2 separate regions of the Homo sapiens genome follow, and region 1 is linked to region 2. The links come from fine-mapping of genetic effects on gene expression. A gene starts in region 2. The other region holds a variant in brackets. All regions are shown on one strand. Distances are between the middles of the regions. Region 1 holds the start of LOC107986077 (a long non-coding RNA gene). Region 2 holds the start of TRAK1 (trafficking kinesin protein 1).

Evidence for each region. PIP is the estimated chance that this variant, and not a neighbour inherited with it, causes the effect.
Region 1: its variant is fine-mapped to the expression of TRAK1 in monocytes after R848 (Quach 2016, PIP 0.95).

What each region holds. Positions count from the first base shown.
Region 1 is chr3:42,009,274-42,017,600 of GRCh38, forward strand. LOC107986077 (a long non-coding RNA gene) reads right to left here and starts at 4,296. Exons shown (of 2, transcript XR_001740668.2): 1 at 4,151-4,296; 2 at 2,745-3,689. It also overlaps a transcript of TRAK1 not described here. RefSeq lists enhancers at 3,979-4,048, 5,029-5,168, 5,562-6,063 and silencers at 4,229-4,348, 4,439-4,508, 4,549-4,708, 4,769-4,838. The variant C/A (reference allele first, on the strand shown) is at 4,145.
Region 2 is chr3:42,086,785-42,095,093 of GRCh38, forward strand. TRAK1 (trafficking kinesin protein 1) reads left to right here and starts at 4,573. Exons shown (of 16, transcript NM_001042646.3): 1 at 4,573-4,776. The coding sequence starts at 4,686. RefSeq lists an enhancer at 8,202-8,309.

The DNA.
Region 1 (8,327 bases), 78 kb before region 2:
GTGCTAGGATTACAGGTGTGAGCCACCTCGTCCCGCCCTTTTTTTTTTTTCTTTTTGTTTTTCTTTTTTTTCTGAGACAGAGTCTCGTTCTGTCGCCCAGGCTGGAGTGCAACTGCATGATCTCTGCTCACTGCAACCTCTGCCTCCTGGGTTCAAATGATTCTCCTGCCTCAGCCTCCCAAGTAGCTGGGATTACAGACATGCACCACCATGCCAGCTAATTTTGTATTTTTAGTAGAAACGGGGTTTCACCCTGTTGGCCAGGCTGGTCTTCAACAGAAGTTGAAGTGATCCTCCTCAAGTGATCTGCCTGCCTTGGCCTCCCAAAATGCTGGGATTACAGGCATGAGCCACCGCACCCAGACATTCTTTCTGTATCTATTGACGGGGCATCTATGAGTCAGGCACTGTTGTTGGTGCTGGGACTGCAGCAATGAATAAAGCTGGTGTCAGGCATCTTTTATATATGTCCCATGTTGTATCTTAGTTAGCTTTTTTTGCTCAGCATCTACTTTTTTTTTTTTTTTTGAGACAAGAGTTTTGCTCTGTTGCTCAGGCTGCAGTGCCATCGTTCAGTTATAGTTCACTGCAGTCTTGAGTTCAGGGGTTCATGCAATCCTCCTGCTTCAGCCTCTTGAGTAACTGGAACTACAGGCATATACCTTCATACTTCCATAGCCAATTTTTAAATTTTTCTTTTGTAGAGATGGGGTCTTGCTATGTTGCTTAGGCTGGCCTTGAACTCTGAGGCTCAAGTGATCCACCCACCTTGGCCTCCCAAAATGCTGAGATTACAGGTGTGAGCCACCACTCCTGAACTCAGCATCAAGTTGGCCAATGGGAGATAGGAACTGGTGGCTAAATATTTCCTCCTCTGTCTTACATTCTGCGCAGTTCCTCAGGGGGCCTCAGTGGGACTAAGCTCCAGTTGTTTACAGAAATTTTATATCCTTCAATAGGCTTTCTTTCTTTCCTGTTTCATTCTTTCTGGTCCCAATTTCTTTTTCTACCCATATCCTACGGGATCATTTTCCAGAAGAAAGTATCTGCCCATGAGTCCTTCTCCAATGTTGCTTTTGGGGGGAACCCCAGCTAATATAGCTAGCCTTTTAATTGCTTTTGTTGGGTCACTTTCAACATTTCCACCTTGGGTCCCTGGATGCATTCTGGGTTCCTAATGGGTAGGGATCAGATATTCTATTTTGTATTTTCCCACAGTTACTAACGAGGGCCTGGCAAATGCAAGTAAACATAGATTAATTTCGATTTGATTCAACAAAAGGAAAGAATACAGTGGCTATCTGTGGCTCAAGGGAAGCCAGTTGCCTCTGTTGCAGCTACTTCTGCCTCATGCTGGATGAAGGGAGGACTTACCAGGGCAATTACTGTTTTCCTTTCTTGTATCCATTCTGCTTCCCTCCCAGGTTCCTGTTCCACTGGCTTCCAGCAGCAGCAGGTCAGCAGCTGCTCCAAGTAGTTCATCAGCTCAGTCAGGCCCAGAACTGGGGCTGTCACTGGGGCCCCGCCTGCCATCTGCTTCCTCCAAGCTGAGAGTAGGAGAGGAAAACTGGTCCCTACTCCTCAGGGGCAGAATCCACATGCCTGTCATCTGGCACTACAGAACAAATCAGGGACTCCAAAGAATGAATGACTTCAAAATTTTCTACCAGCCTTAACTGAATCTCATAGATATAGGGAGTGACAGACAGCTGGTAAAGGTGTAAAGAAAGTAGAACATATTTGGCAGACAAGCAGTAGTTAACGGGTCTACCGCTAATTTGATGCTCCTGTGGACACACACTACTTTTCTGCCCACAGTTTCCAGAAAATGAGTAGGTTGGACTAGATGATCTCAAAGAACCCCCAGCTCTAGGATTGTTAAATTACAGAACTGGAAGGAATCTGATCGGTCAGTTATACTTCAAATAGTCTAATTTTTTTTTTTTCTTGAAAGCCTTCACTGTTGGTAACAGCACCATGTCTATTCTAGATCCACTATGAGAGCTCCAGCATATCTGCTCTGGCATGCTCCCTGATGGGCATGCCCATTTACATACAGTTTTTTTGTAATTAAAAATGATTTTTTTTGTAATTAAAAATTGCATTGAGATAATGGTAGATTCACATTCATTTCTAAGAAATAATATATTTGGGCCAGGTGCGGTGGCTCATGCCTGTAATCCCAGCACTTTGGGAGGCTGGGGCAGGTGGATCACCTGAGGTCAGGAGCTCGAGACCAGCCTGACCAACATGGTGAAACCCCATCCCTACTAAAAATGCAAAAATTAGCCAGGCATGGTGGTGCACGCCTGTAATCCCAGCTACTCAGGAGGCTGAGGCAGGAGAATTCCCTGAACCTGGGAGGTGGAGGTTGCAGTGAACTGAGATTGTGCCATTGCACTCCAGGCTGGGCAACAAGAGCAAAACTCCGTCTTGGGAAAAAAAAAATACACACACACACACACATATATATATTTGGCCTAGTTTCCCCCAATGACAACATTTGCAAAACCTTAATATGATATCATAACTAGGATATTGACATTGATACAATTTACCTATCTTATTCAGATTTTCCCAGTTTTACTTGTACTCATTTGTGTGTATATTAAGTTCTAGATAATTTTATCACCTGTACTACCATACTCAAGATGTTTAACAGTTCCAAATTCACAAGGATCCCTTGTGTTGCCCTTTTATATCATACCTGCTTTCTTTCCACCTTACTTCATTCCCCAACTTGATGGATTTTTCCAAATCTTTTTATTTGGAAATAAGTTCAAACTTACAGAAATGTTCAAGTACACTCTATATGCTGATTCACTGATAATATGCACCTTACCTTTATTGCCCACTTGGCTTTATCATTTTTTCCTATCAAGATTTTTTTTCCCCTGAATCATTTGAAGGTAAGCTGCATACATTATGACCTTTACCCTTTCAAGATACTTTAGTGTGTATTTCCCAAGAATTAGATATTCTTGTACATAATTACAGTGGAAGTTATCAACATCAGTACATTTAACATTGATCCAATACTTTAATCTCTTACATGGATTCTGATTTTGTCAGCTGGAATGTCCGTGATGTATTTCCCCTCCTCTAGCACAGGATGCAGTCTAGGATCAGGCATGGCATTTAGCTGCCCTGACTCTTTTGCACCCTTTAATCTGGAACATTTCCCAAGCTTTCTTTTGATTTTAATGACCTTGACATTTTTGAATAATACAGACCCTTCCTCTTTTTAATAGATGTTCCTCATTTTGGGTTTGTCCGATGTTTCACTATCATGATTCAGGTTATGCATTGTCCCCAGGAATACTGCATAGCTGATGTGGACATGATATCCATCTGCTCTCATTGGTGATGTAAATTTTGATCACCTGGTTAAGATGCTGTCTGCCTGCCTCTTTGTATAGTTACTATTTCCGCTTTTGCTACTAACAGGTCTAAACCATCTATGGGGAGACACATCAACCCAGACAAATATCTGCCAGCCAGTAACAGCCCCCTAGAGTAAGCATTCATGGATGATTCTTGCCTGAGCCAATCTTCACTATACACTTGATGATCTCTTCAAGTCAAGTCTATGCCAGTATGAGAAATCAGGTTTTGCAGGGTTTAGTTTCCTTACACCTTTGGTTCTGGTCTGAGTCTTCTTCAAGTCCTCCCAATGTCCTCTATGACCCCTGGGTTGAAAAGAAGTAGACTCAGTAGCCTCAACTGGAAATGAGATCATGTGGGTTGTTCCCTGTTAAACCGTCCACAAGTGATTTGCATAATAGAGTGGCCTGTGAGCTCTTACTTCCTGGATCGGTTCCTGATCCCCTCTCTGCTGTCCGCCAGCCCCCTGCCTGTCACCCTTTGGTGGCATCTTAGTCCAACAGCCAGTTCCATCCCCTCCAGCCTTCCCCCCGTCCCCGGCTCCATCCTCCCTCCATTTAAGCCTAAGGGCGGCTTTGCTAGGAGACAGCCCGCCCTGCAGGAACAGAACGCCTGGACTTCCACTGTGTTCACGACAATCAGCGCCCCGGGCCGCGGGGGTCCCATCCTTCTCTTAGACTGACTCTGGAAGGACCCCGAGAAGTGCTAGAAGTAAATAAGCGCTCGGGGAGGGATGTGATCAGCTTTTCCGGATCCAGGT[C/A]TTTACCGGATACTTCTCTGTGCCCCACGGCGTGGGTAAAAGTGCAGGGGCAGCCGCGGGCGAGGAAGGCGGGGCGCGGCTCCAGGCGACTAGGACGTGGCCGGCGGGCATCCTGGAGGGCGGCCCGCAGGTGGCGGCGCGGGGCGGCGGGCGGGGCTGGGAAGGGGGAGGGCTCGGCGCGCGTCGGGCGGTGACGGCAGCGCGGAGGGGAGGTGCAAGCCGCCCGCTCGCGGGGGAGCCATGGCGAGAGGCCGCGCGGCGGCGCCCGCAACAGTGCCCGCGTCCGCAGCAGCGCCCCCGCCCGCCGCCCCGGGGCCCACCCGGCCGCCGCCCCCGCGCGCCCCGAGCCCTTGACGCCCGCGCGCCTCAAGCGAGGCGTCCCCCAGAGTGGGGCCGCGCGCGGGAGAGCCGGAGCGCAGCCTTAGCGTCCCCGAGAGTCTCGAACGCCCCGACGACCCCCGCGTCTCGGAACCCCGGACTCCGAGCCCAGGAGCGCCAGAGCGGCAGGCGGGCAGCAGGAGGCGGCGGCGCCAGAGCGGAGCCCCCGCGAGTGCCCCCGTGCCGCCCGGCCGGCTGCAGCGGAGGGAACCGAAGCCGCCGGGCGGCCGGGGCCGGGCCGAGAACGACGCGGAGGAAGCCCCCACCGAGGCCCCCCGGCACCGCGCCTGCTGCCGGGTTGCGCTCCGTGCACCTCTTGCGGGTAAGCCAGGGGTCCGCTCACCCGCGCCGCCTGCGCCTCGGGCCCAGGGGCTGGGGAAGGACACGGGTGTTCTGGGAGTGTCCGCGTGAGATAGTGGCGGCGTGAGAGGCCGGGCGCCGGGACCCTGCGGGGACAGCCCTCCTAATGCACCGGCCGCACCTGCAGGAGGCCCTCGGAGCCCGGAAAAGTGCCCCTAGGGCATCGTGTCGGCCACGCCGCGTGGCCTGGATTCCGCGCTCCGGCACTCCGAGGTGACAGTGAGGCGACCTTCAAAGAGCCTGGAGCTGAGCGCGGGCAGCACCCCGATTCCCACTCACCCGCAAAACTTGATGAAAATGACATCATCTGAGCGTGTCAGAGAGCAGAGAGCCTTTAGAGCCCTCCTTTGCATCCTTGAGAGTTAACAAGTTTACTTTGTCACTTTCTTGACCTGATTTTTAAAGTTCTTTTCTAGTCTCCAAGGTCAAGCTCTTGCAGGTAAAAACAAATGTAATGAACTGTATCGTTTCTTCTTTTGTAAAGTTGTGTTTCAGGAAAGATGTTAAAAGTCGGCCTGCTCTTGAGGCTGGTGCTGGGTGCCCCTTCCGCTTTAAGCTTGCCTGTTTTAGAACCCGTGGCTGCACTTGTTCAGACACTGAAATTAGCGTCCGCTTTGAGAGCCTTCAGAGTATTCGTCGTTGGACCGCTGATTTTTTTTTTTTTCTGATATGCTTCACTGGAACTTTATTTGCTTCAAAAGTGTAAACGTTGTCAATACTGTCTGTGAGTGTGTATTCGGGACTGGTAACCTTTTCTGGAGGGTCTTTTGTTTATCTGGAAGGAGAGTGGAGGTTACCATAGGGAAACGGTCTAGTTCCAGGGTCCTTTCCAATTTCCAACTACAAGAGCAGCGAAGAGGAAGGTGCTCAGACTAAGCTCTGATTAGCCCTGGAGCCAGTCTGCACTGGGGAGGGTCTCCCCAGATTGAGTGAAGGGACAACAGGCTGGGAGCTTGACTGGTAGGTTTGGAGAGTTGGACCTGGAGTGACAGATGGCGCCTTCCCCTCTGTCTCTCGGTTTGGAATGGTCATACTCGGTTGCTCTTTGATCTTGGACCTCAGCTTTGTCACAGAGGTTCCCAGCCCAGTGTAGCCTAAGCCAGCTGGAAAGCTGAGCCCGGCTCTGGGGGATGCTGAATCGGTTTAAAGCCCTTGTCTCAGGGCTGCGAGTTTGGCAACAGTTGGGTTTCAGCTTGGCCCCAGCACCAGCCGTTTCCTGTTTGATGCCCCAGGGACCAGTTTCCCATCCCCAGCGCTCGCTTGAGGGTGTCTCCACTCTGGCTGTGTTGCTTCTCCTTCTCTGTGGTCTTGGAGTGGGAAACCTGGACTGAAATTCCAACTCCTCTCTATTGGCTGTGTGACCTTACTTAACCTCTCTGTCCTGCTCTCCCCTCTCTGGGAGACAATGTTTTAAATGGAGGTGTCTGTAAAAGTTTGACTGAATGACATGGGAGCGTTTTCAGGTCTCCTTCCAACATGATTGGGTTTGTAATTTGGTAAGCTTTTTGAGCCCCAACAGGGATAATAAAGCATATAATAGTAATTATTGTTTTATAGGTTTATTATGAGGGTCAAATCAGGTAATATAAAAGAGCTTTGGGCCGGGCATGGTGACTTGTGCGTGTATTCCCAGCATTTTGGGAGGCTGAGGCAGGTGGATCACTTAAGGTCAGGAGTTCGAGACCAGCCTGGCCAACATGGTGAAACCCCGTCTCTACTAAAAATACAAAAATTAGCTGGGCATGATGATGGGCACCTGTAATCCCAGCTACTAAGGAGGGTGAGTCAGGAGAATAGCTTGAATCCGGGAGGCAGAGGTTTCATTGAGCCAAGATCCCGCCACTGCACTTCAGCCAGGGCGACAGAGCAAGACCCCATCTCAAAAACAAAAACAAAAACAAAAAACATAAAAATAAAAGGGCTTTCAAAAATAATAGAGCACTATTCACATTGAATGGAGTTCTTAAACTTTCACTTTCCAAACTAACAACACCTTAAGGTTTGCCATCTTAAGTGGACTTTGTTCCTGTCATTGCATTCTGGTTTTTTGTTTTTTTTTTTCTTTTTGAGTCAGAGTGTCGCTCTGTCATCGAGGCTAGAGTGCAGTGGTGCGATCTTGGCTCACTGCGGCCTCCACCTCACAGGTTCAAGTGATTCTTTGGCCTCAGCCTCCCGAGTAGCTGGGATTGCAGGCACCTGCCACCACGCCCAGCTAATTTTTGTATTTTTAGTAGAGACGGGGTTTCACCACTTTGGCCAGGCTGGTCTCAAACTCTTGACCTCGAGTGATCTGCTGGCCATGACCTCCCAAAGTGCTGGGATTATAGGCGCAAGCCACCACTCCCAGTCCCTGTCGTTGCATTCTGAGTCCCTGCCTCTGACCTTGTATATAGTAGGCCTCTGTAATTGTTTGGTGATTCTTGAATTAACCATCTGGGCTCTCCATCTTGACTTCGTGCTCCCAAGGTAGAGAACAGACCTTGGGCATTCTCCTCTCCGTCAGCTGTCGGAGTTTTTATAGATGCGATTGTTCTGTAGCACCATATAGCTCATAAGAGAGCCAAGGAGAGTAAGCAGATAGGTGGCCAGTTTTTCTGCAAGGGACAGTTCTTTTTTTACCCTTTGGGGCTCAAGTAAGAAAGGCATTGGAGGGCGAACAGTCATTTAAACTCACTGAGAGTTGCAGATATTCAGTAAAGCCTTTTGTGCATGCCAGAGCTTAATACTGTATGGTCGGGAAGTTTGATAAACTTTAAAGTACCATGACCAGCCTCTTCACATATATGATTCTGTGACCCTTGGTTTTGAAAATGGACTCTGACCACTGGCTGCGGTGGCTCACACCTGTAATCCTAGCACTTTGGGAGGCCAAGGCAGGTGGATTGCCTGAGCTCAGGAGTTCGAGACCAGCCTGGGCAACATGGTGAAACCCCGTCTCTACTAAAACACAAAAAAAGTAGCCGGGCGTGGCAGCATGCGTGTGTAATCCCAGCGACGTGGGAGGCTGAGGTAGGAGAATTGCTTGAACCCAGGAGGTGGAGGTTGCAGTGAGCCAAGATTGTGCCATTGCACTCCTGCCTGGGCGACAGAGTGAGACTCTGTCTCAAAAACAAAACAAAACAAAAGAAAATGGACTCAGATTTATTTAACTCATCTATATTTGGCATGCACTGTGATTTTTGTAGGGAAAGACAAGAGGATGTTCTTTTTAAAAGATGGAGATAGAACCCAAGGGCTTATGTGGGTTCTTAGGTTTTATTTTATTCTTGGACAGAGATACACTGTTGTTAGACAGAGATACACTGTTGAATGAATGGGTCTTCTGGCTTCTCACCTCCTTTTCCCCCCTTCTTTTCAAACAAATGTTCCCTATTCTGACTTGTCTTCTTAGATGTATCTAAGTGGAGGCCACTTGCAGTGTTGAAAAGTGCAAATTTTAGTGAAG
Region 2 (8,309 bases):
TGTATAAATCCTGTAGGAATACAGGTTTTAGCTGTGCTCCAGTGTGTTTCTTTGCTTAGAGCTGCTTCAAGGCAGGTTTCAGTAAGCAAATGAAGCCATGTGCTCCACATTTTGGTCAATATTGATTAGTTGAATGGAACTTTGCTGCAGTTATTTTATTGAAACTAAGCAATGTGATTGGAGATGCCTTGACTTGAGAGAAACGCGTTTCAGAATTCGCAGTCTGAACGCACGTCATCCCGGGGCCCTCATTTTCTAAAGATTGTCCAGGTTTATCGATAGACTCTAACTGTGCCCCTCTCTTTCAATTGTCCCATAGATTCCCTATAAGGAGCCCCTGCTGGTGCACCAGAACTACCGGGGGCCATCTGCCCAACTGCCCCAGACTCTGGCAGTGGGGCCCCCGATGGCAGTGGGCACCTCCCCGTGAAACCTGCCAAGCTGGACGCCACAGCTCTGCACGACGACACTTTGGCCAACTCCGTGCCCCCTTCGGAGGCATGCAACCATGCAGTCCTAGCCTGCAGCCTGGGCATCCCTGAGGAACACTACATAAGCGAGGCTGTGGAAGATGCTCCCAGCTACAGAGGGTACCGGGATGCCTGCACCATTACTGGTATGGGGGCCCTTTCCCTGCCAGGGAGGAAGGGAGGGAGGTTTCAGTCACTGAGGACTAGGGAAGGAATGCAGCCACATGGGAGGGTCTTGGGGAGGTATGTGGAGAGGAACCACCAAAGTGCAAAAGACTCTGAGCTTTCGGATTGTGAGACCTCCAATCCAGAACCTGTTCTGCCAGTGAACCATTTTGTAACTTGTGTCAGTTGTTGACCTACTATCCTGACTGAGAGGTAGACAGCATTTCACTAAATTGTCATGAAGGTTAAAGATGGTAACATCCAAACCTGAGCAGCAAGCATGGCCCATCACAGGCACTCAGTGTATTGAACCCTTCCTTCTCTCTTTGCACTCAGCTTCTTCAGATATAAGACAGGTGTAGTGGGAATAACATGCACTGTCATTGTGGGATGCAAAAACAGAAAACTACATGGAGTGCCCTTTGTACACCATCAGGATTTGCACAGACATGGATTTTTACAGATACCTGTGTCAGTCATAACTCTCAGTGTCCCAGGTGGTAATCACCTAACATCTGTGCGGGCACTTAGTAGTAGAGCTATTGCTTTTTTATTTTCCCCAAGGAAGCATTGAGACAAGTGCTTGAAGCTAGCACAAGAGAGGGCTCTCAATGGAAATGGTGTAGGATGGTGTGCATAACAGCAGCAAGTGGCAAAATTATAGCTCAATCCAGTTGCATTCATATAGAAGTTTGCTTAATTTCTCATTTTTGTCTGCAGTGTTTGCTTTTGTTTGTCTGTTTGAAGTAATGCCTGATGACAGCTTAATATATGCAAGTTGGCTTCCAGTAGCTTCTCTTGGTTCTGTGTTACCAGTTAAGCCTTGAGGACCTCCTGTGTGTCAGGGGTTTCCTGGATACAGAAAGGCACAGAGAAAGCCGGGGGTCCCAGCCTGGTGCCTAGCTGCTGTGCTAGGCCCCCACACACCTCCTCTCCCTTTTTGTTAAGTGGCCCACATGTGTTGTCCTCCGCTTGTGACTGAGTCCCTCTCCCACTTGCCTGCCCCCTGAAGGACACAGTTCCAACATCTCCCTTTTCTCTACTGCATCATTCTTTTCCCCTTGCACTTGGGTCTTTCTTATTAGTGCAGAAACATGCTATGATCTCCCTCTTCGGAAATAGAATCCTTCTCAGTCCCGTGTTTCCCGCAGGCCAGTGTCTCTGCTCTTCTGTTTGCTTACTCTAGTTTTTCTTTTGTTCTCTCTGGAGTCCACTGCAGGCAGGCTCATGCCCCACCACACTGACAGCCTGGTTCAGTCCAGGGGTCTGTCCTCTGCCTTCACCTTACTTCACTTTTCAGTGGTAGTTCACACTGTTGCCAAGTCCTGTGTCCTGGAAGTACAGTCTTTACTTGGCTTCTGGGTCCCCACACTCTCCCTGTTCTTCTGCCTCAGTGGCTGCGTTTCTTCTTCTCCCAAGCCTGGGAACGTTGAAGGGCCCGGGGCCCAGCCTTTCCGCCTCTTTGCTCTTATGTGTGCACCTGTGCAGCACTTGATCTCACCCAGCACACAGGTTTTAAAATCGCCTTCTGTACTGGCCACTCGGTGGTTTCTGTACTCAGCCTGGCCCTTCCTCCTTAAGGCCAGATGTCTCAGACTGACTCCACATGAGTTTCCACTTAGATGTCTAACAGGCATGTCAAACTCAAATGACCAAAAATGAGCTCCTGGTTTCCACCTGCACCTGCTTTTCTTAGGGTTTTCCCCATCCTTGTAAATGGTGCTTTCATTATTCTAGTTGCTCAGGCCAAGAACCTTGGAGGCATTTGTGATTCTGCCTTTCTGCGATTCATACCCCAGTTTGTCAAGAATTCTGTTGGCTGTATCTTCAGAGTATGTTCAGAATCTACCCAGCATTTACTGTGTCCCAGCCACCCCCATCTCACACCTGGATGACCGCACTGGCCTTCCAGTGGGGCCTCTTACTGCTACCCTTGCCTCCCTAAAATTCTTTCTCCGCTCAACCATGAGAGTTGGCTTTTAATACAATCAGATGGTTTAACTCTCCTCCAAACTTCCAGTGAGCTCCCCTTCTATAGAGACCTGTAAGGAAGGGGCTGAATGACAGGAATCCCTCTTTGCCCCGCTGACCTGCCTCCTCTGTGCCCTCCGTGCTCCAGGTACACTGGCCGCCTCACTTAACCTTGAACTCACCAGGCACATCCAGCCTCAGGGTCTTTGGATTGCCTTAACTCCAGATATCCTTATGACCCCCTCTTCCTTCTCCAAGTGACATTTTATTTGATGCTTTTTGTGACCCCCCCCCAATACAGAGTGATCTGCCTCACCTTTCCCCATCTCCCTTTCCTGTTTAATTTTTTCCCCCAAACTTAACCATCTGCTGAACTACTGTATTTGTGTTTTGTCTCCCAAACTTGCAGTAGACTAAAGTCGCGGAGGGCAAACTCTGTGTCTACTTTGCACACTCCTGAATCCAGTGACTAACGTAGTGCCTGCCTGTGGCCAGCGCTCAGTGAACATTTGTTGGGTGTATCAATTGTGTCAATTTGTGCAGTGAGTACTATTATCCTCTTTGTGTAAGTGAAGAGTCTAAATCTCGAAAGGTTCAGCACCTTGGTGAAACTCCTGAGTGGCAGGAGTTGCATCCAGGTCTGTAGGACCCCAGGGCAAGGGTTCTTTGCTGCCTAAGAATTTAGTCTAGTTGGGGAGACAGATGAGTGAGTAGAAATTGGCTGTACACCGAGGTTAGCACAATGATAAGCACAGCACAGTAGGGCACCAAGGAGGGTGCCAGGCTGAACCTTGGAGGGGAAAGGACAGGAGAAGACCACGAGGGCTTTGTGGAGGAGGCGATGACCCAACCGCATCTACATTTGTCCAAACACATGAATTGATCCTTGGGATTCTAGTGGCATCTGTACCAGTGAAATCCAGGAAGCATCCAGCCTGTTAAAGTGCTTTCACTTTCTTTGAATGTGACAGTGGAGGGTAAAGAAATGGCAGAATGTACCGCTGAAACTTCACAGCTGGGCGTGGTGGCTCACGCCTATGATCCCAGCACTTTGGGAGGCCGAGGCGGGCAGATCACCTGAGGTCAGGAGTTCAAGACCAGCCTGGCCAACATGGTGAAACCCCGTCTCTACTAAAAATATAAAAACTAGCCAGGCATGGTGACGGACGCCTGTAATCTCAGCTACTTGGGAGGCTGAGGCAGAATTGCTTGAACCTAGGAGATGGAGGTTGCAGTGAGCTGACACAGTGCTACTGTACTCTAGCCTTGGCGACAGAGTGAGACTCTCTCAAAAAAACAAAACGAAACAGCAACAACAAAAAACACAACAAAGAAGTGGCAGAATGTAGTGCTGAAACTTCAAACCCTATAGGATGTGGTGACTTGGGGGTTCTTTGTTGGGACCAGAGGAAAGCTGAGAAACAGCTCGGTGCTGTTGTGTTTAGCACTGGCTTGGTAAACAGGAGAGTAAACACAGACACTCTTATGCGTTTAAGGGATGGGCTGTCAGGTGATGGAGAACATGCTCGGATTAAAGTTTTATTAGGCAGTCATTGAAAGGAAGACATTAAATGGAAAAAAGTTCTCCGAGAGACCTAGACTATCCCCAAGAATGCATCTGTGGCCTCCCAGGGCTTTGCCAAGTGCAGTCTCAGGACACTGCTTGGCATTCAGCCCTTGATAAATTCACTCCTCCCCCAGTTCCCAGCAAGCCCTGAGATGAACAGCAGACTTTTTGTTCCACTTTAATTTTTAGGCAAAACCGAATGCCCATCACAAAGCCCCGTTCTCCTTGCTACTCCCCTTCCCCCAACCTAGAGGTATCACATTTTTGGGTGCGTCATTTTCTGTTTGGGGTGGCTTAACAAGATGAGCTGATAGGGTTCCCAGGCTGCCTGGAGTTACATAACCCATTGTGCTTCCAGGACAGCTCACAATCTTAGGATTTGCCCTAACAAGCAAACTCAGAAAACTGCTGAGGAAGGCACGGGAGGGTGGCTGTGCGAGGTACTGCCGGGGCTGAGCTCTCATGGAGGCTCTCTCTGTTCTCTGAAGTGCCTTTGGAGTTTATGTCTGCACATGGCATTGGTTTTTCAATTCGGGCAGCCCGTCAGGGCTCAGCCTCTGCCAGGACTCTGCCACGGCAAGCTCATTCGGACAAACGCCTGTGGTAAGTTTGTTTGCCAGGTCTGTCTGCTGTCTGTTTTCTTTGTGGTGTGGTCGGAAAGGAGAAAAGACCACAGGAGAAGCTGTCTCTCTCTTGCTCCGTGCTGCTTGGGAGGTTGTTCATGGTCATGTGGTAGAGAAATTGCCATGTTGAATGATAGGCAGAGCAAAGGGACTTCAGAGACACAACTACTGCCCTCACCACCCCCCCATCTCCCGTTCCCAGGTCCCCTTGTCCCCTTGCCCAGGCTCAGTAGGTGCAAGTGACACTTGCAGGGCATGAGCACAGGGCTGAGTTGAGCCCAGACCCCCTGCACTGCCACTCCCTTTCCCTTCACAGTTCTCTGCAGTGGGTGGACAGGGTTTCTAAGGCCTCCTCCGCCTCTCCAGCTCTGATTTCTCTAATCCTATGTCTTGTCTTTATCCTGATTTCTTAGATGCTAACCTGGTATCTTGGGTCAGCAAGGAGTTTTTCAGAAGGTGAAGGACAGAGTTAGACTGTCTCCCTCCCTCTCTCCCGTTTCCCTCTCTTCCACCCTCCCTTTCTTTTTTGTCCTTTACTAAATGCTTGGGCCTGGGACTCGGATCCACACCCCAGTGATGGAGGGCTTGCTAATCAGATCTGCTGTGGCTTGTGTCTCTTGCTGTGGGGCTGACACCTCTCACTTCCTCTAAGCTGGTCAGAGTCCAGTGGTTGATGACCCATCTGGTTTCTGTCCTGTCTACACGCTGCTTCCTGAGAGCTGTCTGGGCCAGAAAACAGTTAATTCCTGAGAGAAGTGAGCTCCTGTTCCATTCCAGTCAGTTTTAGGCTTTAAAACATGTAAATCTTATTGAATAAGCCTAAAGACACTTCAAACATGCATCTTACTGAGGCAATCGTACTTATTTTTGTGTGTTGAAGCAGCGTGCACCCAGGGCCAGGTTTTTACTGGGGTTTATGTTAATTCCTGGGGTCAGAGAGAGGACTGGTCCTGCCCTCAGAGCACAGAGGTGGGCCAGGGTGTAAAGGAGAAGCTGTAAACCGAGTGAGAATTGCCTAGGAAAAATCTGCTAACAGGAGTAGCCCTGCCTGGGAGGACTCTTCATCAAAGGGCCATGGCTTAGAATTTGTTCCTTTTATTTTGTTGTGTTGTGTTGTGTTGTGTTGTGTTGTGTTATGTTATGTTATGTTATGTTATGTTATGTTATGTTATGTTATGTTATGTTATGTTATTTCGTGACTCACTGTATTGCCCAGGCTGGTTTTGAATTCCTGGGCTCAAGTGATCCCCCTGCCTCGGCCTCCCAAAGTGCTGGGATTACAGGCGTGAGCCACCATGCCTGACCCAGGATCTTTTCCTTTTCTATCACTGATTTAAGCCATAAAACTTGATGTCTTATCCTCTGAAAACATGCTCAAATAAAACATTATGGAATTCTTACACATCTTATTAATTAAATTTAAGGCCTTGTCAATTTCTCTCTAGTATAATTTTTATTTGTGTTTTCTATTGAAAATTTATAATCTAAATGGGTCTTTTATTTGGCTATATTAATGAAACAGAAAAGAATGGACAGTGAAATATATATCCCTTTTACAACAGAGTGAGAAAATGTAAATTACAATGTAGGGAATAACACATATTTTCTAAATGTGTAATTTAGAAGTTTTTTTTTTTCTCCTTCTCTTAGTGGAATCTCCTTTATTTCACAGTTGATTTGTTTTTGCAGATGGAATGCAGAAAGGGGCCCTGTTATGCTAATTTCTAGAGAGAGCATTTGATCTTTGCAAAACCACAGAAACATTCACCTCTGCCTTTTAAATATGCTATAAATGATTTGGGGGCCACCAGCTAATCTTCCTACCCTTCAGTTCCCTTATGACTAGGTGAGTAGGTAGAATATTTATCACAAGGTTTTTGACATAAATTGTGAAATTTATTTAAAATGTCATTTGTAAGTTTTTTTCCATGTGATTTTGGGGCCATAGTTCTCAAGTATTTGATATATTTTTATCTTCTCCTAACTGGTTTTAGTTCTGCACTTGAAACAAATTTTTTTCTCTCCTGTCCTCTTTTCTCTCCCCTCTCTTCTCTCTTCTCTTTTTTCTCCCCTTCCCTTCCCTTCCCTCCCCTCCCCTCCCCTCCCCTCCCCTCCCCTCCCCTCCCCTTCCTTTTTTTTTTTACAGAGTCTCACTTCTATCACCCAGGCTGGAGTGCAGTGGCATGATCTTGGCTCACTACAACCTCCACCTCCCAGGTTCAAGCAGTTCTCATCCCTCAACCTCCTGAATAGCTGGGATTACAGGCATGCGCCACCACGCCCAGCTATTTTTTTGTATTTTTAGTAGAGACAGGGTTTTGCCATGTTGCCCAGGCTGATCCCAAACTCCTGAGCTCAGGCAGTCCGCCTGCCTAGGCCTCCCAGAGTACTAGGATTACAGGCGTGAGCCGCCGTGCCTGGCCGAAACAAGCTTTTCATGTATATAATGTATCAATCTTTGTTCACCCCAAACTATTTTTGGAAGCTGGCAAATAATAAATTATAATAGGAAAAAAAAATGGCAGTTTTTGGCAGAGTGGCCAGGTATGGGCCTCGGCACCTTCCTGCTCAGCCAAGGTCTGTTGTAGGAACGTTGACTGGGAGTGACTGAGAGGATTCAGGGTGCACCAATGCCAGGCTCAGGCTGAGCAGCTGGGTTGGTGTGTGAGTCTGGGACTCATGGCCCCAGGGGGAACTTTGGAGTCAGAAACTTCTCTGTTTTCACTGAGCCCTGATCTCTCATAAACACTGAAAAACTTGAGCAAGTCAGGCTGAAACTATCAGGAGCTGAAACTTTATTTTACTTTTAGAGTCAGAGTCTCACTCTGTCACATAGGCTGGAGTGCAGTGGTGCAGTGCAGTCATGGTGTATTGCAATCTTGAACTCCTGGGCTCAAGTGACTCTCCCACGTCCACCTCCCAAGTAGCTGCGACTATGGGCTGGAGCCACCGTGCCTGGCTATTTTTTTTTGGTAGCAGTGGGATCTTGCTGTGTTGACCAGGCTGGTCTTGAACTTCTGGCCTCAAGTGATCCTACCACCTTAGCTTTCCAAAGTGTTGGAATTATAGGTATGAGCCCCAGTGCCCGGCAAAGGTGTAACTTTATAACTAGATCTGGAAGAAATATAATGTTATAAATCCTGTTCTAGGTTTCTCTAGAGAAACAGAGCCAATAGGAGAAACATATATCGAAATGTATTACAAGGAATTGTGTTACTTGATGGTGGAGGCTGACAAGTCCAAGATGTGCAGTTGGCAAGCTGGAGGCCTGGGAGACCCAATGGTATAGTTGCAGTCCAAAGGCTTGACAGGATTGAGGCCCGGGAACTGGTGTTCCAGTCCTGAAGACCCTGGGGGTGGGTCAGCCTGTTTGCTCTATTCAGACCCCAGCTGACTGGATGAGGTCCACTTCACTCACAGTAAGGAGGCATCTGTTTTACTCAGCCTGCTTATTCATGTTCATCTCACCCAGAAACACTACCACAGACACATTCAGAATCATTCTTGACCAAA